Linked DNA regions of Homo sapiens: all the other regions are linked to region 2. Evidence: fine-mapped expression QTL. A gene starts in region 2. Each other region holds a variant in brackets. All regions are shown on one strand. Distances are between the middles of the regions.

Region 1 (8,150 bases), 240 kb after region 2:
AGAACAGAGCCCTCAGAAATAATGCCACATATCTACAACCATCTGATCTTTGACAAACCTGAGAAAAACAAGCAATGGGGAAAGGATTCCCTATTTAATAAATGGTGCTGGGAAAACTGGCTAGCCATATGTAGAAAGCTGAAACTGGATCCCTTCCTTACACCTTATGCAAAAATCAATTCAAGATGGATTAAAGACTTACATGTTAGACCTAAAACCATAAAAACCCTAGAGGAAAACCTAGGCATTACCATTCAGGACATAGGCATGGGAAGGACTTCATGTCTACAACACCAAAAGCAATGGCAACAGAAGACAAAATTGACAAATGGGATCTAATTAAACTAAAGAGCTTCTGCACAGCAAAAGAAACTACCATCAGAGTGAACAGGCAACCTACAAAATGGGAGAAAATTTTTGCAACCTACTCATCTGACAAAGGGCTAATATCCAGAATCTACAATGAACTCAAACAAATTTACAAGAGAAAAACAAACAACCCCATCAAAAAGTGGGTGAAGGACATCAACAGACACTTCTCAAAAGAAGACATTTATGCAGCCAAAAAACACATGAAAAAATGCTCATCATCACTGGCCATCAGAGAAATGCAAATCAAAACCACAATGAGATACCATCTCACACCAGTTAGAATGGCAATCATTCAAAAGTCAGGAAACAACAGGTGCTGGAGAGGATGTGGAGAAATAGGAACACTTTTACACTGTTGGTGGGACTGTAAACTAGTTCAACCATTGTGGAAGTCAGTGTGGCGATTCCTCAGGGATCTAGAACTAGAAATGCCATTTGACCCAGCCATCCCATTACTGGGTATATACCCAAAGGACTATAAATCATGTTGCTATAAAGACACATGCACACGTATGTTTATTGTGGCATTATTCACAATAGCAAAGACTTGGAACCAACCCAAATGTCCAACAATGATAGACTGGATTAAGAAGATGTGGCACATATACACCATGGAATACTATGCAGCCATAAAAAATGATGAGTTCACGTCCTTTGCAGGGACATGGATGAAATTGGAAATCATCATTCTCAGTAAACTATCACAAGAACAAAAAACCAAACACCGCATATTCTCACTGATAGGTGGGAATTGAACAATGAGATCACATGGACACAGGAAGGGGAATATCACACTCTGGGGACTGTTATGGGGTGGGGGCAGGGGGAAGGGATAGCATTGGGAGATATACCTAATGCTCGATGACGAGTTAATGGGTGCAGCGCACCAGCATGGCACATGTATACATATGTAACTAACCTGCACAATGTGCACATGTTCCCTAAAACTTAAAGTATAATTAAAAAAAAATAAATTAAAAAAAAGTTATGTTTACACTAAACTATAGTCAACTAAGTGTGTAATAGCATTATGTCTTTAAAAATGTACATACCTTAATTAAAAATACTTAAATTGCTACAAAATGCAATTATCAGAGCCATAAATGAGTCATATATATATATAGTTTTTTGCTGGTGGAGGGTCTTGCCTTGATGTTAATGGCTCCTGACTGGTCAGGGTAGTGGTGGCTGAAGATTGAGGTGATTGTGACAATTTCTTAAAATAAGACAACAATGAAGTTTGCTGCATTGATGGACTCTTCCTTTTATGAAAGATTTCCCTGTAGTATGTGACGCTGTGTAATAGCATTTTACTCTCATAGAACCTCTTTTCAAATTGGTGTCTGAAACCCTGCTCTTTCTTCATCAACGAAGTTTACTCTAAATCCTTTGTTGTCATTTCAACAGTGTTTACAACATCTTCACCAGGAGTAGATTCCATCTCACTTTCTTTGCTCATCCATAAGAAGCAACTCCTTATATGTTAAAGTTTGATCATGATACTGCAGCAATTCAGTCTCATCTTCAGGCTCCACTTCTAACTCTAGTTCTCTTGCTATTTCCATCACATCTGCAGTTACTTCCTCCATTCTGCCTTGAACCCCTCAAAGTCATCCTTTAGGGTTATAATCAACTTCTTCCAAACTCCTGTTAATATTGATATTTTGACCTCTTCTCATGAATCATGAATGTCCTTAATGGTATCTAGAATGGTGAATCCTTCCCAGAAGCTTTTCAATTGACTTTGCCCAGATCCATCAGAGAAATTACTATCTATGGTAGCTATGGTCTTACAAAATGTGTTTCTTAAATAATAAGATTTGGAAGTCAAAATTACTTCCTGACTCATGGGCTGCAGAATGACTCTTGTGTTAGCAGGCATGAAATAACATTAATCTGCTTGCACATCTCCAGCAGAGCCCTTGGATAAGTAGGTGCATTGTCAATAAGCAGTAATAGTTTGAAAGAAATCTATTTTTCTGAGCAGTAGTTTTCAACAGTGGGCTTAAAATATTCAGTAAACCATGCTGTAAACAGACGCACTGTCATCCAGGTTCTGCGGTTTCATTTCTAGAGCACAGGAAGAGTAGGTTTAGCATAATTCTTAAGGGCTCTAGAATTTTCAGAATGGTAAATGAGCATTGGCATAAACTTTAAGTCACCACCTGCATTAGCCTCTCACAAGAGAGTCAGCCTGTCCTTTGACGCTTTGAAACCAGATATTGATTTCTCCTCTCTAGTTACAAAATTCCTGGATGTCATCTTCTTCCAGTAGAAGGCTGTTGCATTTATATTGAAAATCTTTTGTTTAGCGCGATCACCTCCTTCAATTATCTTAGCTAAATCTTCTGGATAACTTGCTGCACTTTCTACAACAGCACTTGATGCTTTACCTTGCACTTTTATGTTACAGAGATGGCTTCTTTCCTTAAACTTCATGAGCCAATCTCTGCTAGCTTTCTACTTTTCTTCTGTAGCTGCTTCCTCACCTCTCTCAGCCTTCAGAGAATTGAAGAGAGTTAAGCCTTGCTCTGGATTAGGTTTGGCTTAATGAAAGGTTGTGGCTGGTTTGATCGTCTCTCCAGGCCACTCAAGTTTTCTCCATATCAGCCATAAGCCTGTTTCACTTTCTTATCATTCACGTGTTCACTGGAGTAGCACTTTTAATTTTTTTCAAGAACTTTTCCTTTGCATTTACAACTTGGTTAACTGGCACAAAAAGCATAGCTTTCAGCCTGTCTTGGCCTTCAAGATGCCTTCCTCACTTAGCTTAATCATTTCTATCTCTTTACTTAATGTGAGAGATGTGCAACTCTTCCTTTTACTTGAAAACTTAAGAGGCCATTATAGGGTTATTAATTGTCCTAATTTTAATATTATTGTGTCTTAGGTAATAGGGAGGGCCTGAGGAGAAGGCGAGAGATTGGGGAATGGCTGGTTGATGGAGCAGTCAGAACACACACAACATTTATCAATCCCAAAACGATTACAATAGTAACATTAAAATCACTGATCACAGATCACCATAACAAATATAAAAATAATATAAAAGTCTGAAATATTATGTGAATTACCAAAATGTGACACAAAGACACAAAGTGAGCACATGCTGTTGGAAAAATGATGCTGACAGA[C/A]TTGCTGAATGCAGGGTTGCTACAAACTTTCAATTTGTAAAAAAGCACAATATCTGCAAAATGCCTTAAAGCACAATAAAATGACTTATGCCTGTTTATCATCAGTTTCCTGGTGACATGGTATTTCTCTCCTGTTTTTTTCCCATAGCCACGGCCCTATTATGCTCCTGTTCCTCTTTCTATAAGGATGCTAATTACAATAGCTAACATTTGTTTAACACTGATTAAGTACCAACCACTGTCCTAAAGACTTTCAATATACTAACTTATTAATTACAGCAGAACAATCCTTTGAGTAGCTATCCCATTTTATAGATGTGGAAGCTCAGGGCCCAATTAATTAAGTAGGTGGTGGCATCAGGATTTGAATCTGGGCTGTCTGGCTCCACTCTGAACCACAACACTTTGCTGTCATAGAACTGATTTGCCAACTAACATTTAGAAAACAACTTCTTAGTAAGTTGAAACTATTTGTAATTTTTGAACTCTTTGTGATACTAAACAAAGAAGCAAAGAAATATAGTAATTGTACCAATTTGACATTTGCTTAACTTCATGCATGTGTTTGGTAGAGTCAATTTTTCAGAAAGATTTTTTCACCCTTTACAAATACAGAATCAGTTGTTTTGGTGTGGTGCCATGAGAAGGATCATGTGCTTCACTCCCAGGGTCTGTAGTACTCCTTTTTATGGGCAGGCTGCTCTTGAGTAGTTTTCCCTGTCTTTCTTCCCTCTCTTTTCCTTTCTCTCTCTCCCTCTCTCTCTCTCTTCTTCTCCCTCTCTTTTTCATGGTATAGCTGTAGTCCTCATTATCTACCTAAGCATACATATCCACATAACAAGCTACAAATTATTCAACTAGAAAACCATATTGTGGTTCGGTGTTAACTATTACTCTTTCCTTATTCAAAAATTATGAAGCTTGTAGTCTAGCCTGGTTTGGGCAGAATTTCTGTCCTCCTTTTACTTCTAGTGCTCCTCTTTTTATTGTCTGGGTTCTTCATCATCTTCTGACTCTTTTCTCTGTTCCATTCTGGCCCATGTTTCCTATACAGGTTGTTTCTTTATGGTAGAGCTGATAGGCAGAAAATTTTCTGTCTGCTGTTGCTCACAGTTTAGATTCCTCTTTTCTTTTTACTACTCCAATAATTCTGCTAAACCATATTCTAGTTCCTTTGTATCACCCAGAGTTGGTCTTTCTGATATGCTTATCTTAAAAAAAATTAAAATAAAATATAAAAATTACTGATTATTAGAGACAGCACAGCTGAAGCTGGATAATAATCTAGGAATACTAAGCATGTAGTTTTTGAATTTTAATTGTTTTACTCTAAATTGCATAAAATTTCAAAGTTTTTTTAAAAAAACAAGAGTACTTAACATTAATCTAATATTAGCTTATCTTCTCTATCTAAAAGTTATTTTCTTCCCTTTACCAATCAAAGCCCTCTAATGGGTACTTTTGCTCACATTCTGTTTGCTCCTTAAAAATTTTTTTTTTGGTCCCTACCTTAATTATTTAACTGAAATCACTTTGGAAAGTAAACAATAACCTCATCACCAAATACATATCTCAAATGCATTTTCTTGCACATTTCTGTAACATTTGACACCACTGACAGACTATTCTGGGCATCTCCTCTCTAAGCTACTAATTCTTTAATTAATACAGTCTATGATAACATGAACTCTTTTGACACTTCTTTTTCTTACAATGAACTTAACTAAAACCCTTCATCTTTTTCTACACATGCTGCTGATGTGAATCCATTTCTCTCCCATTTACACATGTAGTTTTTTTTTTTTTTTAACTTGACTCATTTGAGCCCATTTTCTATCCTCTGAGATCAGGTTTCTGATTCTGTTTCATCCAATGTGTTGACTGTTCCTTCTAATTTTGTGTCACCTGCAAATACAGCATCAATTTTCTCACTGGATTCACTGAGGGAAAAAAGATGTCATCATTTTGTAGGGCTTAGGCTAAAACTGGGCAACATGCATTCCAAGCTCTTCTCCAAGGCTGACTCTGATCTGTTAATCTGGGTACTTTAGGTAGAAACAACTGTGTATATTGAACTCATATTTCTTCACTTTTTGTCCAGAAAAATATCTTAGAAGCTTTGTCAAATATCTTCTAAAAGCACACAAAAATAAGAAACTGACTAACGTAATAAATACACAAACCCAGAAATGAGTTAGTTCTGGTAGGACTTGTTTTCTATGAACTAATTCTGATCCATACTCAACATGGTTCCCTTTAAAAATTCTCATAGTCTAAGATTTTAATAATTTGTTCTGGAATGTAGCTGAAGATGATTAACAGTCCAGTCCATCATTTGCACTATCCACTTCTTGCCATTTTTGGTCAGGAATATATTTGTAACACTTGTAACACTTTTCTAGTTTGTCTTGATTCTTTAAAGATGGCTGACTACAGATTCCGTCAGCTCAAAGCATGCTCTGGAATTATGCTTGGAAATAGCATGTGAAAGTTTCATTTGAACGCAATTTAGAGGAGTTATGAGGTCCTTTGTAAGGGTCTTTTTTCCATCTAAGTTTCACTCTCTTTTACAGGAAACAGAGGAAAATGGGATTTGAGATCAACTTTCTCTCTGCTACTTACTATGACATCATCTACCATACTCCAAAGATGTGCACATCTCCTGCTCTCATTTTTCGCTAAATATGATTTTAAGGGCGAAGTTTATTGTTTTTTTCCACAGCCTTGAGCTCCCTTTGTGCTTTTGCTTTTTTTGACATTATTCTTAAGCCTCTTTGCCACTTTTTTATATGGTTCTTGGTTATTAATCCTTTTGTCATCATTGTTCACTTCATCTTAAGGTTTGAGATACTAGAAATGCTGCACACTGTCTCTCTTGCATAAAACATATCTATAGACATCAAGTAAGTTTTTTTTTAAAATTAGAGTAAAAACCTAAAAACATCTTCAATGCAATTTGAATGCAGAATTCTTTTAGTTTTTATGATTTTCCTCAAATCTTTTATAGTTGTTTCACTCCAACCTGATTTGACAATAGTACTTAAACTTATATTTTATTGGTTGATGTATTATTTAATTAAATTGTGTAATTAATATTGTGTGACTGCAAGTAAATCTTGCATGAACATGTTTGGAAACAAAACCCAGTTGCCTCTTGTTAAGCATACAATTAGCTGGTAGCAACAGAAGTCCACGAGCATTTTAGAGTAGCCTACTAGCCCAAAGCATTCAGTATACAGTGGGAATTAATCAATATATTTTACAGATGCAATGAAGAGCTTCAGTTAATGTAGTGAGTTGGTTAAGTGGAGGCTGGCTAAAAGAGTTTCTGCTGTATAATAAGATGTGCTTCTTGATCTACAATAAATTGCAAAATAGTAGCCAATTCTATCTGAATTGATTAATTCTACTATACACTATACACTATCATAATACCTGTAATACTTTATTTCCCTAACATCTAAATCTACTAAACTGTGAACTTCTTGAGGGCAAGTGTTGTCCTCAATAGATGGTTTGGTGAATATATTTTTAAAAACATAGCACGAGAAATGAAAAGGAAAAGGGAGAGAGCAAAGGGTGGGCTGATACAGAACAATAAATTTCAAAAACAATTCTGCAATATTGGTACCATAAAATTTATCACTTAAATGCTATCTGATAACTCATAGTCCCTGGTAGTGGGAAGGCCAATAGGGGTTGGAAATAGAAAGCAAGCTAGTTCTCAATATCTGCAAATTCAAAACAATAACAACTTTTGAATGCAAATTTTAGCCCTGTCTATAACGTTTCATTGAACACATCTCATTCTGTTTTAGAACAATGAAAAAATGGTATTGTATTGGGCTTTGTTAATACAAAGTAAATAGTGATTCCCATGAGAAACTATTCTGTAATTATTCTGTTTTTTCACTAGATGGTGCTTGTGAGCCAATGAGAAGAAAAATATTTGAGTTTATGGTTTATTCACTTAAGGGGAAATGAGAAATTTGTGAATTAAATAGAAAAAGACAATGAAAAATTAGAACACTTTAAGACAGACCTTTATAGTTAAGTTAAACTACTTGGAGAAAACCTCATATTACTTTCTGGTAACAATGTTAAACTCTTGGAAGAAAAAAATACTCATTCTCATTAAGACGATTACAATCACCAAATTCTGAAAGTTTTGTGGGCTGACTGTACAATCCTAATGAATTAAAAGATTTTCTTTACTCTCCTTAAAATACAACATTACCTTTGGTTGGGGGCAAAATCATTTAAATTGTTACCATGATGAGATTATAGCTTCATTACCTAATGTTATCTTGTGAAATGGGTTGTTGTCTAGATTTCTAATGCTGTCTGATAGGCAATATTCCTTTACTTTTATTCAGGGACATCAAAGAGTAGAGGTTAAAAGGAAAGTCTCTGGAGTCATACTACCTGGGTTTAAACCCCAGATCTGCCACTTACTAGCTGTGTAATCTTGGCAGTTCACCTCCCTAACCTTCCTTTCCCTCATCTTACAAAATGCAGTTGTCATAATTTCTACCTCATAAGATTGTTGTGAGTTAATACATGTAAAAGACTTAGAACTGTGCTTGGCACATTAGTAGGTATTTAAAAAATGTTAGCGATCATAACATTTTTCATGTTTCACTT
Region 2 (8,184 bases):
CCCAAAGCACTGGGATTACAGGAGTGAGCCACTGAGCCTGACCCAATTACAAATTTATTTTCAACCCTCATTCCAGAAGGAAGACAAAAATAAAAAGCCAATATCCACTTAACTGCAAATTTCATGATGTCCTTATAAAGCCAGTGCATTATATTTTCTTTCACTCATGAAGCAATTTTTAATAATCACAATATATATTTAAATGTTAATAATCTTACTTTTTTTTTTTTTTTTTTTTTTTGAGACGGAGTCTTGCTCTGTCGACCAGGCTGGAGTGCAGTGGCGCGATCTCGGCTCACTGCAAGCTCTGCCTCCCGGGTTCATGCCACTCTCCTGCCTCTCAGCCTCCCGAGTAGCTGGGACTACAGGTGCCCGCCACCACGCTCAGCTAATTTTTTGTATTTTTACTAGAGACGGGGTTTCACCATGTTAGCCAGGATGGTCTCGATCTCCTGACTTCGTGATCCGCCCGCCTCGGCCTCCCAAAGTGCTAGGATTACAGGCGTGAGCCACTGCGCCCGGCTTACTTTTTTTTTTTTTTTTTTTTGACAAGGTATCTCTGTTGCCCAAGCTGAAGTGTAGTGGCACGATCATAGCTCACTGTAACCTTGAACTCATGGGCTCCTGCTTCAGCCTCCTGAGTAGCTAGGACTACAGAAATGCACAACTATACTTGGCTAGATTTTTGTTTTTAAAGTGTTTTGTAGAGATGGGGTCTCATTGTGTTGCCCGGGCTGGTCTTCAGCTCCTGGCCTCAAGTGATCCTTCCACTTTGGCCTCCCAAAGTGCTGGGACTACAGGCAGAAACTACCACACCGAACCTACTAACTCTACATTTTACATGATGAGTTCAGATTTTAAAAGGATTAGTTTGCTAATAAAGTGTCGTGAGCAAAGTGAAAAATCAAAAGATTACTTGAAGTATTTACATGATGATCCAAATTTAAAGCGACCTCAACAAGCAAAATTTACTGTTTACAAAAAACTGTATCACGGTTTACGAATAGGAACACATATATTATATATAATGGGTATAATGCGAATGCATTTTACCAATGGAAAGTACAAAACAGCTTGCTGATGAAAGAGGAAGGAAAAAGCTCACAGTGAACTTGGAAGCAGATCCTTCAGCCCCAGTCAACCCTTCAGATGTCCGCAGCCACTGCCGACATCCTGACTGCAACTTCATGAGACCCTGGGCCAGAACCGCCAGCTAAGTCTTGACCCCACAGAAAGAATAAAATTATTGTCTACTGTTTTTTGTTTGTTTGTGTTTTGTGTGAGATGGTTCCTCGCTCTGTCACCCAGGCTGGAGTGCAGTGGCATGATCTCGGCTCACTGCAAGCTCCCCCTCCCGGGTTCACGCCATTCTCCTGCCTCAGCCTCCCGAATAGCTGGGACTACAGGCGCCCGCCACCACGCCCGGCTAATTTCTTGTATTTTTAGCAGAGACGGGGTTTCACCCGTGTTAGCCAGGATGGTCTCGATCTCCTGATCTCGTGATCCGCCCGCCTCGGCCTCCCAAAGTGCTGGGATTACGGGCGTGAGCCACGGCGCCTGGCCCCTACTGTCTACTGTTTTAAGCCTCTAAGTTTTGGTGTAATTTATTACACAATAGATACGTAGAAGAGAACTATTTCTATTTTTAAGGAAGGTATAATTGCAGTTCCAGAACCCCACATTTCTGGCATCTATTCTACTCCAACTTTTGGTGCAGATATTTAACATCTGGCTCAGAGTCTGAGTATTAGAAAAAGAGAAATTTACTAAGTGTTCTTCCTGTATTACTTATTGTCTCTGAATAATACACCTAAGGGTACCCATTTTTCTTCTTAAACTTTTTATTTCCTTTTCCACTTCCTATTCCTCCCCCTACAAATAAAACGGACTCCCGAACCTCCTTTTACATATTCACTTTTGTTGATAAGGTTCCTTAAGAGTAGTGATCTCTTTTAAACTTGTCATGTTTAAAAATCCAGTGTGCTCAAGGTATTTAATAAATATTCCATTTTACTAATACAAGAGATAATCACATAATAAATCCGCAGCCTATGAACTAAAGATACTGTTTGGGATAGCTTCTCTGACATAACTGACATATTATAAATTCCTCCCTATGACTCGCAGAAGCCATTTTCTGCAATGGCCAAACTTTGTCACACCCCATCCCCCTTATAGCAAATACCACTAACTTTGGGGCCTTCAGAGTATACATAACAGTACTTTTCTCCTTCCTGAATTCCACAAACATATAATTAGCTGGTCACTTTAATTATACGCTATCATGTATTGTTTGCTAATAATCTCTTAGACATTATTTCTGTCAAAACAAATAAGAGCTGATACATTCTCTAAGTAAGTGTCATCTGTTTTAACTTTCCCTCTTCCCCACCAACCTTACACATTATATGCAAAAACCCAAGGTCAAAACACGGTCCAAATTCCAGAAACCGCCTTTATTATGCTTTACCAGTAAGTCTTCTTCACTGAACTGTAGTTGCTGTAAACTTAATATATTTAATTTCTTTAATGGAAAAATATCAAAAGCAGATGCCAAATCTGATGCAACTAACTGACAAAGGAAACACAAATCTTGCTTACTTTCACTGAAACTTTTTATAGCCATCAGATGTCTGCACTTAAAATGTTTAGTTCCTATGCCCATTACGAATAAAACAAAATTCTGTATTTCAACATGTTTCAAGCCTCAGAAGTTCCCAGACATCCTTTTCTGAGTCTGGTGTGATGCAATAATTTTTCAAATGTCATTTAAAAAAATGGGCCAGGCTGCAGGGAAAGGACCATGTCACACTCTCAGCATTCAAGCCTCAAAGGCTCCGGGGCACGAAAGGCTCTTACAACCGGTTAAGGACGGCAATGGGCTCCTTCGGCACGACTCCCGGAACCCCACCCTGGGCCAGAAAAAGGCCAGGGGCGCGGAGCGTAGGCGGAGGGCTGGGGTTCTAGGGATCTAGAAAAAGCGCGAAGCCGGAGGGCGGCGCCAGGGCTCCTCGCAGACCCCAGGGCCGCGGGACGGTGCCGGCTCGTGGGTCACACGCACCCAGGAGGCTCCTGGCTCCCGCGTGGCGGCTGTTCCAGCACGCCCTCCGACCCGCAACCGGACCCTCCAGACATCAGACTCAGTGGTCCCCCACCTCCGGTCTCCCACCTCAGGACGCAGTTCCGCGGCGTCCACCCGGCCCCCTCCCCTCAGTCCCACGCAGCGGCTCAGCCATACCCACCCCGGCTTCTCTGAGTTCAATCCAGCAGCAGCTCGAGCAGCGGCTCCGCCCCTCGGTCGGAGCCATAGAGACGTCGGCTGCCGGCCAGAGTGGCCTCAGACCGCAGCGTCGGCCGAGAGGACGCCGGGATACTGGCCAGCTCCAAGTCGAAAGGAAGCGACGCATGAGTTGTTTGGTGCGGTGGGTAGATACCTCGAGTTTCTCCTCGCCCACCGTAGGCCCCGACCCCTAAAAAGGAAACTTTTGGGACGTCAGAGTGAGAGGAGAAAAGTGTCTTTTTAGTTTAGTTTTGTCAAACCTGAGGATTCGTTTTTCAGTTTAGCCGGAGCTGTGCCGCAAACGTAGCTGCCGACATCCCCACGACGCACCCAAGTGGTGGCCCGGAAGCTGGGGATAGAAAAGTGGCCTCCCCGAATGCCAGGCACACAGGCCTTACTACCAGAAGCTTGAGCTGGGAGCCTCGGCCGTCGCATCTCTAAGGTGCAGCGATACGGCCAACTTCCTTCCGCGAAGCCCTCAGGGTGGGCAACGGAGCTTTTCACCAGACTGAGGGACCGGGCGACCTGGCCGACCGGCGGCTCCTCACCGCCCCCTTGGGGATTTCTTGATAATTCTTTGCCACGATGCGGGCGGATGTTGTGGAGCTACTGTTTGTAGATCGCAGTAGCGTGACAGCACTTAATCATGACTACTAAATCCTCAGAAGTCGAAAAAGCAAGTCCATACAGAATAGTTTGACCCTAATTAAATTGCGCTTACAAGATACAGTTTGTTTACTGGGACTTTGGCTAGGTCCCATCCCGTCTCTGCCTCAGAGTGGTGGTTGCTCTTAGCACCAAGGAAATACCAGCTTGACATTTGACTCTAGGAAGCACAGGCCCAAAAGAAGAGGCCCAAGGAGGGACATTCTTCTTTCCCTTTCCTACCTACAGTTTCTCAAACCAAGTGTCAGATGGAAAGCAAGGGGTGGTATCATCGTAATTATACAGTTGACCATAGAAAATAAATTTCAATCTCAAAGTAAACTCCTAGGCCACCCCCAGAATCTTAGAGTTTCTCAATCATAGAACTCATTTCTTGTCACAGTCTTGGTTCTTAGCCAATGTAAAACACCCAACTGACAGGGAAAATTAAACACCTTTTAACTCCCACACACCTTAAATGAGAATTTAAAGTATCTTTCAGCAAATGTATTTATAATTTTGAGTGCTTTTAGCCATGTTAAGGACAAATTTTCTCCTTCTGAATGCAGTAATAATTTGGCATTACCCTTTTGGCAGTGTGGTACAAAGTCTTATAATCTAGGCTTTATGGAGCTATTGAGGAACAACATAGATGGCTTCATGCAAACCCAAACAATGTAATAGTAGTTCTTTTCTCTGTAGTCGGTCTACTGCCTGTAGATGTTTATTCCTTTTTTTTTTTTTTTTTTTTTTGAGACAGGGTCTCCCTCTGTCACCCAGGCTGGAGTGCAGTGGTGCAATCATAGCTCACTGCAGCCTTGACCTCCTGGGCTCAAGGGATTCTCCGGCCTCAGCCTCTGGAGTAGCTGGGACCACAGGCACATGCCATCGTGCAGGTAATTAAGTTTTTTGTAGAGATGGGCATCTCGCTATGTTGCCCAGGCTGGTGTTAAAGTCCTGGGCTCAAGTGTTCCCCCCTCCTTGGCTTCTCAAAGTGTTGGGATTACAGGCGTGAGCCACTGTGCCCAGCTTACTGATTCATTTATACAAACAGAGTGCTCTCAGTGTGCTACAGAATGACTATGGAGCTCAAGTTCTAGTGGAGGGTGTGAGCCACAAGGAAACAAGCTAGACAGATTGTAATAAGTACTATAAAGGAAGTAAATAGGGTGATGTAATAGACTTGGGAGATGCTAACTTTAGTCAGGTAGTAAGGAAGGCCCTTTTGAGGAAATGGTACTTGTTTGAGAATTGAAATGTGAAGGAATCCAGTGTCAGAGGAACTAAAAAAAAAAAAAGGCATTGTGCCCCTTTAACTTAGTGACATTATCATTCCTGATCTACACTCTTCTCCCCATTTTTCTCGTTTTCTCTGTTACTGCTTCCCGTTTATTTGAAGAGCCAGGTCTTTTATAGAAATCAGAAAATTAGAACATTTCTGGTTGTGTTTGGTGTAATCTTGACGTCATTATAGATATTTGGTTTTGTTCTTTCTTAATAGACAAGCTTATAATAAATAGCACTTTTGGTGAGCTCATTTCTGTTAAACACTTTGCAGCATAAATCTTTTCCTGTGTTCAAAAGAAAGTATCTGGTTCATGAGACAGTTTAGATACAGTCTTTGCCAAAGTGCCTGATTTTTAGTTTACAATGTTGCTTGTCTCCGTTTTTGTTTTTGAGATGTAGTTCTTGTCTCATAGCTCTACTGAAAAATACTTGGAGTAAAGGGACCAAATAGCAAGTGAACAAATGCACAATTCTGCATATTAAAAAAAAAGAGGCTGGGTGCAGTGGCTCACACCTGTAATTCCAGCATTTTGGGAAACGGAGGCAGGAGGATAGCTTGAAGCCAGGAGTTCAAGACCAGCCTGGGCAAGATAGGGAGATTCCTGTCTCTACAAAAAAAATTTTTAAAAATTAGCCAGGCATGGTGGTACATGTCTGTGGTTCCAGCTACTCAGAAGGCTGAGGTGGGAAGATCCCTTGAGCCCACAAGTTCAAGGCTGCAGTGAGCTATGATTGCACCACTGCATTGCAGCCTGGGTGACAAAGCAAGACCGTATCTCAAACAGTAAAAACAAACAAAATGAAAAAACCTGAAGATTAATAGTGAATGCTCCACAAGATAAAAACAGCAACAACTTTATAATGTTACAAATTTTTTTTCTTGTTAATCTGAAATAAGAATTAAATGTGAAACGTTCAAAACTTCGAAATATTTATTATTAAGATATAAATACATATTTTAAAAATGTACAAGTTAAAAATACCTTCAAAGTTAAATGTCAGTTCTTTCACAATCATTGTGCCGGGGTAATACGTACAATATCTTGGCTTACTAGTAATTTTATACCAGTCACTTGAAACAACATCCTTAAACTTTAATAATATGTTGTAATAATTCCATTTTTCACTTTTTAGAGTTTGATAGAAGACAGTCAATATCGTGAAGGATTTCAGAGGTTTTTTTCAATGCTATTGATACTCTATTTTCATTAACTTCTCCTAGCAAGGTTTCTGAAGATCCTGGTTTATAATGATCAAAAGACTGTTGTTCATTTTTCTTGTTAGAAATCTGGTTTAGGATACCACTATTTTCTAGTAGCACTAAGTTGCTTAGTTAAGGAGGTTTTCCCCACATTTTTCACTATATAAATATCTTTATATACAGAAAGCATAGGCTTCATATTAAAATATTTCTCAGCTGGAAGACCTCTTGGATTCATAATACAGTTGGAACTGCAAGGCTTATCAAGTCTGCTCCTTGTAGATGAAGAAACTAATTACAGTATAAGGGAGGGGGAAAGAGAATAGAGTGTGTATGTGTGTGTTTGGGTGGAGGTTTGGTGGTAAGGAGGAAATGAAAATTTCAGTAACATTTCTTTAAGTGAAGAAATGACACGGGAATTAAAGAGTAGGATGACAGGATTATAAGGAATCTGTGTAGTGTCTATTTTTAATTTAAAAAGATTTAGAGTGAAAAACCTGTTCGCTATAGAACTAACTTATTTGAATAAGATTAGAGAAAAACCACAAGAGAAAACAAATTTAGATGAATTGGGTGAGAATGTACAGAATGAAATATTTCATTTAAAAAAAGAGGTCTTAAACAGTTATAATTTTATTATATAATTATGTAAGTGAAAAAGTCTCCAAAGGAGACCTTAACCCTAATTAACTGTTCTTTGCCCAATTTAAACTCAAAGAAAAGTATAAATGTTAACATGCTATACCTTCTATGGACAAGATCCATCTTAAATTACAATCTTAGGTATTTGCTGACTCAATAAAGGTTAGCAATATATTAAGTATAGATTAATATTCACAAAGTACTGAAGTCATGAATTAAGCCTAGAATGAAAGAGAGTAATTATGTAGGACAGTGCATTCTGTTTAAAGGATACAGTTAAACTTCTGTATCTTTTCAAGTTCAGAAGCAACAGACCTGTCCAAGGAAAAAGAAAAAATTCATTCAGTTGTCTGATTCTTTTGTATTCATGATATTTCAAATAAGCATACCTGACTTTTTTTTTCATTAGAATTTTAAACGGAAGAACGCAGAAGAATTCTCTTTATGTTACCTTTATTTAGCAACAAATCAACTTGACTCAACTGATACTTACTGAGTGCCTTTAAAGGTAAGTGAATAAAAGTCTACCCCTTGTAAATCCACTTCAAGGAATTTGTAATCAAATATTGATGTTTGAGGATAATGGGCCTTCCTGTTACTTCTTAGTACTAACCTAGCTTACACTCTACTTTCCTCCCTAAAGTTTACGCAAACTTTACAAACCTATTAAAATCCCATTCCTTCTGTGAAAGAACTGCTCTCTCCTTCCTTGAATTCCTATAGCATATTAATTAATCACATACTTATTTGTAATATCTTCTCTTGAACTATTTAACTTCCTGCTCTTCCTACCTAGATTGTTTCTCTCAGAAGAAAGGATTTTTTACTTTTCTGTACTTGTGCATATATTAAGACCTCATTTATATGGAACTCTTTGGGAATGGATGGTATGGGAGATCCAAGTTTTTAAATAGTTGAATTACGTGTCAAAACAACTATTTTTTATTAAATTCTTTCTGGAATAGACTACCTACTTATTTCATTGTTTTTTTAAGCACAGAGGGTTAACATGATGAACATTAGCTCTTATACCATGTTCTATAGAAAGATAGTGGGACAACTGGTATGGAGTAGAGGGCTAATATATACGTCTCCAGCAGAACCCCTAAGTGTGTGTTCTTTATCCTTT
Region 3 (8,185 bases), 100 kb after region 2:
GACTCCATTTTGTTCTGTACTAAGACAAATTCTTTTGCCTTGAGATGCTGTTAATCTATAACCTTACCCCCAACCCCGTGCTCTCTGAAACATGTGATGTGTCAACTTACGGTTAAATGGATTAAGGGCGGTGCAAGATGTGCTTTGTTAAACAGATGCTTGAAGGCAGCATGCTCATTAAGAGTCTTCACCACTCCCTAATCTCAAGTACCCAGGGACCTCTGCCTAGGAAAGCCAGGTATTGTCCAAGGTTTCTCCCCATGTGATAGTCTGAAATATGGCCTCCTGGGAAGGGAAAGACCTGACCATCCCCCAGCCCAACACCCGTAAAGGGTCTGTGCTGAGGAGGATTAGTATAAGAGGAAGGCATGCCTCTTTGCAGTTGAGACAAGAGGAAGCCATCTGTCTCCTGCCCGTCCCTGGGCAATGGAATGTCTCGGTATAAAACCCGATTGTATGTTCCATCTACTGAGATGGGGGAAAACTGCCTTAGGGCTGGAGGTGGGACATGCGGGCAACAATACTGCTTTGTAAGGCATTGAGATGTTTATGTGTATGCATATCTAAAGCACAGCACTTAATTCGTTACCTTGTCTATGATGCAGAGACCTTTGTTCACGTGTTTATCTGCTGACCTTCTCTCCACTATTATCCTATGACCCTGCCACATCCCCCTCTCTGAGAAACACCCAAAAATGATGAATAAATACTAAGAGAACTCAGAGGCTGGCGGGATCCTCCATATGCTGAACGCTGGTTTCCTGGGTCCCCTTATTTTCTTTCTCTATACTTCGTCTCTGTGTCTTTTTCTTTTCCAAGTCTCTCGTTCCACCTAACGAGAAACACCCACAGGTGTGGAGGGGCAACCCACCCCTTCAGTTATGATTTTCACTTTGTGTTAGGTCAGATTTTTGCTGTTTAATTTTGTCAAGAGAATTTCTAAGGTTAGCCATGATACTATTATATGTCTTTATTTTAATTTGGTCTGTCTATAAACACAAAGAAGGCAATTGTTTAGAACCAAGCAACAAGAGTTGAGATGACAAAAGCCCACAGTGATGGGACTTTTAAGACAAACTCCCCTGAGAGCTTGACACATTCATAACAAAAAGTGTGCTGCTTAAAATCTTACATGTCTCACGTCCCAGCCATTTTCAGACTGGTCACCTTATATGACCTGAAAATCATGCCTCATAGATAGTGGAGACCAAGAGAGAGTGCTCCCACTTTGTCACCAGCCACACTTTCAAGGATATAAAACAAGATGAAAGGGGAATCTCATATGGTTTTTATTTTGGGGGCCCACAACAAAGTTTATATGCTGTTCTGGTCAGAACTACAATTCTGACAAGTCCGCAAGGCTGGCTGGAAAAATGGGCTTATAAAGGCTTTAGGCCTATGTTCTACCTCATGCTTGGTACCCTTCTTTATGACATAACAACACGGAAAGACAAAGAAAGAAAAAGTTGATTTCTGGGACAAAAAGGATCAAATAATATGAATACTTAAACCAAAAATTACACCAGAGTCACAACACCCAAGACTACTCACACAAATCCTTGTCTCCCATTAATCAAGATTTTGCAGAGAAAAGAGACAAACAGGGATTTTAACTGTCAACTTGATCAGATTCCACAGAAAGAGAGGCCAGAAGCTTGGCCGGTAAGAAATTCTTGTTCTTCTGGCAGCTAGTCAGGTCCTGGGTTCCCTTCACTCTGGCTTAAGAGCAGAATAGTTTTGGTATACTGCTCACAGCACCAAAACTATAGGAGCCAAGCAAAAACTTCCCCTTTGCCCTCTGAAGGTCCACTGAAAAATCAACTGATAAAAGGCAGCTTAATAGGAGAAATGGCACAGAAATTTATTAACATACCCACAAAGGAGAACCACAGAGTAATTATTCCTCATGTCATTTCTTCTTTTAATCTGCTTTTTTTGTCAGTTGACTTTTCAACAAAACTTCAGAGGGCAAAGGGGAAGTTTTTCCTTGGGCTCTATGATAGGAATTGATTCATTCGCTTGTTCATTCAACAAATATTGATTTGTGTCTACTTCATGCCAGACACTGTTCCAGGTGCTGAGGATAAGCAGGGGTGTGAGATTGGTAGGTTGGAGGCATATGAGACATGAAGCAGAAAACAAGTTCAGTGGCTATTGTAGAAATTCTGGTGAGAAATGATGGTAGCTACTAAGCTAGTAGTAGTGGGGTTGGACAGAAGGGCCACATTTAAGAGATTTTTAGGAAGAAGTTGACAGATGTTGAGAGATTGTATGTGAGTCATTAGTGAGAGGCCAGAGATCAGGATGACTTTCAGGATTCTGGCTTTGGTGCCTCAGCCTATAAGATTCGGAATACCAGAAGGGAGCAGATTCAGGAAATGAAGGGACTCTCCTTTCTTCCGTTTTGGATATTTCATTTGGTACCTGGAGCATCCAAGTAGAGTTCTTCAGAGGAGAGTTAAATTTATGGTGTTGGCACTCAGAGCAATGTTGCTTGAGTTAGAGATTTGATAGCTGAAGCCACAGGAAGAAATGAGATTACTTAGGAAAAGTGAGACAGAAGAGAAGAGAAAATTATCAAGTTTAATGGCTGGATTGAAGAAGAGAAATCTGTTTTCTTCATTTACATAGGAATAAAATGACAGAAGCCAGTGGAGAATAGAAGGTTAAAGAGGAAGAGCTTACGAGTGCCAAATGTTGGTTAGGGGCTGGGAAATCTTTCCCTTTGCCTTCTGAAGTTTTGCTGAAAATCACATATTACTAGGAGAAAAGGCATATAAATTTATTTGGTTAGAGTTGTACCTGACACAGGAGCCTTTAGAATGCGGACCCAAAGATATAGAGGAAACTGTCCATTTTTATCATTAGGTTCAACAAAGTATGGGCAGCTATGTAGAAATATGATTGGACAAAAAGGGTAAGATCTAATGCTAAAGACCGAGTGGGGAAACCTACCTAGAAAGGCCTGTCTGTCTAGATTCTTCTTGGCATCTCTGAGCATGGATTTCATTCTGGATATGGGGCAGGATGCTCTCTGGAATGAGGGTCTTTAGACCTGCAATCAAACAAGGTAGGTCAAATAATTTTTTTTATGGCTGATTTTTACACAAAAATGTTGGGGGAACGTTAGGATAATACTTTTAGGTTTTATGCCTGGTGTTGGGGAAATGGGGTTCTAGTTTCTATGACCTGCCTTGAGGAAGAAAAATTCTAGTTTCTAAGGCTAGCCTTGGGAGAATGAGGGGCCAGAGGCAGGAGGATAGAAGGTCAGAGAGACTTGCTTTTGAAGCCTTTGTATTGGAGTATTGTTTTTCTGACAGCCTACAGTTGCAGAGATGTGAAATAATAGTAGGATTCTGAAGAGTCCATGAAAGTGCACCCTTTCCTGAGATTGAGCACTCTAGATGCTGCAGTGGGTGTATCCTGCCTGAGGCCATTAAACTAATGAATAAACCACTTCTGGGAATCTAGTGCTAAGCAATCTTCTTCTTATAATTTTATTATCCATCTAAATTTGCATATTGGGAGGAAAATAATAACAATAATAATAGCTAATATTTAGCATTTACTATGTTCCAAATGAACACTTTACATGGATTATCTAATTTAATTATCTTATATAGAGGTAGATCAGCAGGACTTGTTTTCCAAACACTGGTCACAACCTTGCTAATCAAAACAGGAGGCATTAAATAAATCAGCTAAATCAGCTAAAACCAAGATGGCAACGAATGTGATCTCTAATTGCCCTTGATCTGTGTTATACACTAATTATAATACATTAGCATGCTAAAAGATACTCACACTGGTGCCATAACAGTTTACAAATGCCATGGCAATGTCCAGAAGCTATTATATGGTTTAAAAGAGGAGGAACCTTTGGTTTTGAGAACTCCTCATCCTTTTCTAGGAAATTTATGAATAACCTGCCCCTTATTTAGCATATAATTAAGGAGTAGCTATAAATAGAGTTAGTCAGCAATCCATGAGTGCTACTCTGCTTATGGGGTAGCCCTGCTCTATCTATGGAGCAGCCATTTTCCTGTATTCTGTTGCTCTTAATAAACTTGGTTTGCTTTCACTTTACTCTGTTGGCTCACCCTTGAATTCCTTCCTGCATGAAGCCAAGAACCCTCCTGGGCTGAGCCCCAGTTTTGGGATTCACCTGCATCATCTTTCCTGGAACCCATGAAGGGATTAACAAGCCGAGGGGAACTGCAGGAGACCTTCACTGGACGCCCCCCTACTAACATCAATCAGCACCATTTGCCCTCCATGGATAGGTGTCTCCTTTGTTTCCCCTGCTATTTGGGCAATTGTTTCTATGTTATATGAGGTAGGACAGTTTCCTTGTTTTGCATTTTTTTCTTTTTTTTTTCTTTTTTTTCCAAGACATAGTTTTGCTCTGTCACCCAGGCTGGAGTGCAGTGGCGTGATCTCGGCTCACTGCAAACTCTGCCTCCCAGGTTCAAGCAATTCTCCTGCCTCAGGCTCTTGAGTAGCTGGGATTACAGGC[G/A]TGCGCCACCATGCCTGGCTAATTTTTGTATTTTTAGTAGAGACGGGGTTTCCCCATGTTGGTAAGGCTGGTCTCAAACTTCTGACCTCATGATCCACCTGCCTCAGCCTCCCAAAGTGCTGGGATTACAGGTGTGAGCCACTGCGCCTGGCTGCATTTTTTCTTTTGTTATTATGAGTGATCCCCCATTGTGCTGACTTTGGAATGTTGGAGTCATGCTGTTCTGTGCCCCCAATTGTTTTGGAATTGTCCCCATAGGATTGTGGGTGAGAATCCCACCATTGAGGACCTTGGGCTTGTGCCTTTGGGGTTCACTGTTGTCTGCCTCCAGGTTGTTCTGGGATGTGTAGCATTTGATGTGGGGGACCGTCATTGGTTGATGCCTGGATGCTCCAGGTTTTTCAGCATTAACTGCTTTTGGCCCTCTAAGATTGTGGGTTAGAGTCCCACTCTAGAGGGATCTAGGTATCCCCTCTAGGATTGTGGGTTAGAGTCCCATCCTTGGGGGATCTTGGTCTCATTTTTTCTTGTTGTCTTTGTCATCCCATTTTTTCTCCAAAATGCTTTCTTCACTTTTTGTGGAATTCAGACTATAAGAATCCTATTTCCTTATTTTAATCTCTCCTTCAATAATTTGCTTATTAAAACTCCTCTTTTGGCCGGGTGCGGTGGCTCAAGCCTGTAATCCCAGCACTTTGGGAGGCCGAGGCTGGCGGATCACGAGGTCAGGAGTTCGAGACCATCCTGGCCAATGTGGTGAAACCCTGTCTCTACTAAAAATACAAAAAAATTAGCCAGGTGTGGTGGCGGGCACCTGTAGTCCCAGCTACTCAGGAGGCTGAGGCAGGAGAATGGCGTGAACCCGGAAGGCGGAGCTTGCAGTGGGCTGAGATCGTGCCACTGCACTCCAGCCTAGGGGACAGAGCCAGACTCCGTCTCAAAAACAAACAAACAAACAAACAAACAAAAACTCCTCTTTTGTTGCATTCCATTTGCTAGTGGATGCAGCCATCCATCTCTCTACTGTCCACTCATATCTGATAATTCATTTTCGTTATGCCATGGTAACTGTACTTATGCCTTCTTTGCAGGAATTAGTGGTGATTGCCCTACTGACCTTTCTTGAGGGAAAAGGGAGGTAGGCATTTGAAAGAAAAATTAACTAGGCTCTTGATAGATTTAGAAAAACTTCTGTGTCTAGTGGAGATCCTTGTTAGACATGGGGACAATGGCAAGCATCTCAAAGGACTTGCTGCTAGGGTGTCAAAAGCAATTGGATCAAATTCAAATTCTCTTAAAGAGAAAGAGACCGATTTTCTTTCTTTTTTTTTTTTTTCATGGAAGAAAAACTTTAATTGCTGTTTTAAAAAACCTCTGTATGAGGTAGAAATTGGTTTCAATAATATTAGTAAAGAATATGTTCTAGAAAGTGGAGGTAACTGGATGTAAAATTCTGGCAGCAATTTAATAGAACAGTCCTAGACGGTTAGGCTGAGTCCAACACCTAATGAGGATGAAAGCTTTGTCTGTGGGGAATTTTGGATGATACTTGGAGAAATATTACACTGTGCATAAACCAAATTGAATTGCTTTCACAAGTGTTATAAAGTTTCATATAGTAAAAGGTTTTTTCTACATGCACTTCAATTTCACAGCAAGAGTGGCAGAGAATACCTAAACACAGAAGCGAACATTCGTGCAAGATATCTATTTCCTTGATATAATAATGCATACAATTCAAAATGATTACACTATCATTACATATAGGGCTTTATGCAACTACACTGTGGTGGTTATGGAAAGCACTGACCCCAGCATCGACATCTAGAAAGCATCCACCACCTTCTTACGTGTGTTCTCTTTTTGCATTTTTTTCTTCATTTTTCTTAATCAACTCTGCTGTTATTGCTGCTTCTTAGCAAAACTGGTAAAAACAAAATTGTAATCATTGAACATAGCACTCTGGCAATCAAGACGCTTAAAACCTTCAATCTTCTGAGGTGAAGAAAACACGGCGCGACATTTAGAACTCTGATTAACAAAGTGATCACAAATTTTCCTGGCTTGAAGCCTTCCATAGCTTTCCTGATCAGGTCATCATAGGAGGTGGCTTAAGTTTGTTTCAAAGCTAACATAAAAAGATTCTGGTTCTGGAGTGATGTGAATAGTCCAATAAGTTCCATCTGATTTCATTCCATTCATCGAATACCCATAAGGATTGAACATTGTGGCATTAATGACAGAACCTGGTATCAGGTTGTGAATTCCACTCTCACAAATGACATCCTTTGCAGTAACGCCATCTTTCATGTAGAACTGGTCCATAACTGCTGGGTCAAGCCCACTCATCAAATTTTCCAGGGTTTGATCTGGCTGACTGATTACCTTTCTGGGAAATCCAGAGTACGTAAGTACCAACAGTCAGAATTCATACTTCCCATACAATATGCTGCTCCATTTGGGAAAATTGCATTAAGAAACTCTATTTCTTCCTGGAAATTCTAGTGTAGGTACCCTTAGGGGGAAGGCTTCATGAAATTCTCACAAGAATAAAAGAAGCTTTGAATTGAGTCAAACCCACTGTAATGCCTAGCAAGCTTCAACAGGGGAACCAGCGCTTTCAGTAAGAGAGTGGTACCACGTGTCTTCAAAATGAAACGTTTCTTGGAGACAAACATGCTACTCTCACTGAGTACACAAGCTTCCTGGTTGTCAGTTTTTGTCACACTTATCATTGAACGTTGCACATCCTTCAAAAGTATGTCCCACTTGGCCGGGCGCGGTGGCTCACGCCTGTAATCCCAGCACTTTGGGAGGCTGAGGCAGGCAGATCACGAGGTCAGGAGATCGAGACCATCCTGGCTAACACGGTGAAACCCCGTCTCTACTAAAAATACGAAAAATGAGCCGGGCGTGGTGGCGGGCGCCTGTAGTCCCAGCTACTCATGAGGCTGAGGCAGGAGAATGGCGTGAGCTTGGGAGACCGAGGTTGCAGTGAGCCGAGATCGTGCCACTGCACTCCAGCCTGGGCGACACAGCGAGACTCCGTCTCAAAAAAAAAAAAAAAAAAAAAGTCCCACTCAGATCTTGGGATAGTGCGAAGATCCCCAGATCCTTGGTTTGCATTGGGCTGCTGCCAGGAGAACCAAACCTCCAGCCGCTTCTCGGTCCCTTCGGAAAAATGTACAGCTTCCATCACCATGAGACTGGCGAACAATCAACAACCACAGAAAATCAACTAAATTAAACCTTTTCTTCTGCTGCTGCGGCTGCCGCGGCTGCTGTGAATTGTTCCAGCTGTGTTAGAAAAGTTCAGGTTCCTTTTTTTTTTTAAAGACTAATAAAATGACCGGACGCGGTGGCTCACGCCTGTAATCCCATCACTTTGGGAGGCCGAGGCGGGCGAATCACGAGGTCAGGAGATCGAGACCATCCTGACCAACATGGTGAAACCCCGTCTCTACTAAAAATACAAAAATTAGCTGGGCATGGTAGTGGGTGCCTGTAATTCCAGCTACTTGGGAGACTGAGCCAGGAGAATCGCTTGAACCTGGGAGGCGGAGGTTGCAGTGAGCCGAGATCAAGCCACTGCACTCCAGTCTGGTGACAGAGCGAGACTCTGTCTAAAAAAAAAAAAAAAAAAGTAAAATTTTCCCGGCTTTGTGTGAG

Which allele goes with the higher level. Positions count from the first base shown, and alleles are read on the strand shown. Sizes are in standard deviations (SD) of each study's normalised expression.
As copies of C replace A in region 1, the expression in sun-exposed skin of the gene that starts at base 3,340 in region 2 goes up (small effect, 0.35 SD a copy in GTEx).
For the expression in subcutaneous fat of the gene that starts at base 3,340 in region 2, A is the high allele of the variant in region 3 and G is the other (large effect, 1.5 SD a copy in GTEx).

Evidence for each region. PIP is the estimated chance that this variant, and not a neighbour inherited with it, causes the effect. A credible set is the group of variants that fine-mapping cannot tell apart.
Region 1: its variant is the best candidate, but not a certain one, in a credible set for the expression of C5orf34-AS1 in sun-exposed skin (GTEx, PIP 0.81).
Region 3: its variant is the best candidate, but not a certain one, in a credible set for the expression of C5orf34-AS1 in subcutaneous fat (GTEx, PIP 0.64).

Annotation. Positions count from the first base shown.
Region 1 is chr5:43,722,633-43,730,782 of GRCh38, forward strand. No RefSeq gene overlaps it. Among named protein-coding and RNA genes, the nearest start is that of NNT-AS1, 120 kb to the left of the region's middle. The variant C/A (reference allele first, on the strand shown) is at 3,507.
Region 2 is chr5:43,480,580-43,488,763 of GRCh38, forward strand. C5orf34-AS1 (C5orf34 antisense RNA 1) reads left to right here and starts at 3,340. Exons shown (of 3, transcript XR_007058763.1): 1 at 3,340-3,422; 2 at 7,465-7,563. TMEM267 (transmembrane protein 267) reads right to left here and starts at 3,286. Exons shown (of 3, transcript NM_022483.5): 1 at 3,243-3,286. It overlaps C5orf34 (chromosome 5 open reading frame 34), which reads right to left. Exons shown (of 13, transcript NM_198566.4): 12 at 7,330-7,370; 13 at 6,130-6,532. The coding sequence ends at 6,336. RefSeq lists a silencer at 3,141-3,371 and enhancers at 3,317-4,160, 3,426-3,615.
Region 3 is chr5:43,580,512-43,588,696 of GRCh38, forward strand. NNT-AS1 (NNT antisense RNA 1) reads right to left here. Exons shown (of 3, transcript NR_073113.1): 2 at 2,956-3,055. It also overlaps the pseudogene AMD1P3. Among named protein-coding and RNA genes, the nearest start is that of NNT, 19 kb to the right of the region's middle. RefSeq lists an enhancer at 1-727. The variant G/A (reference allele first, on the strand shown) is at 4,517.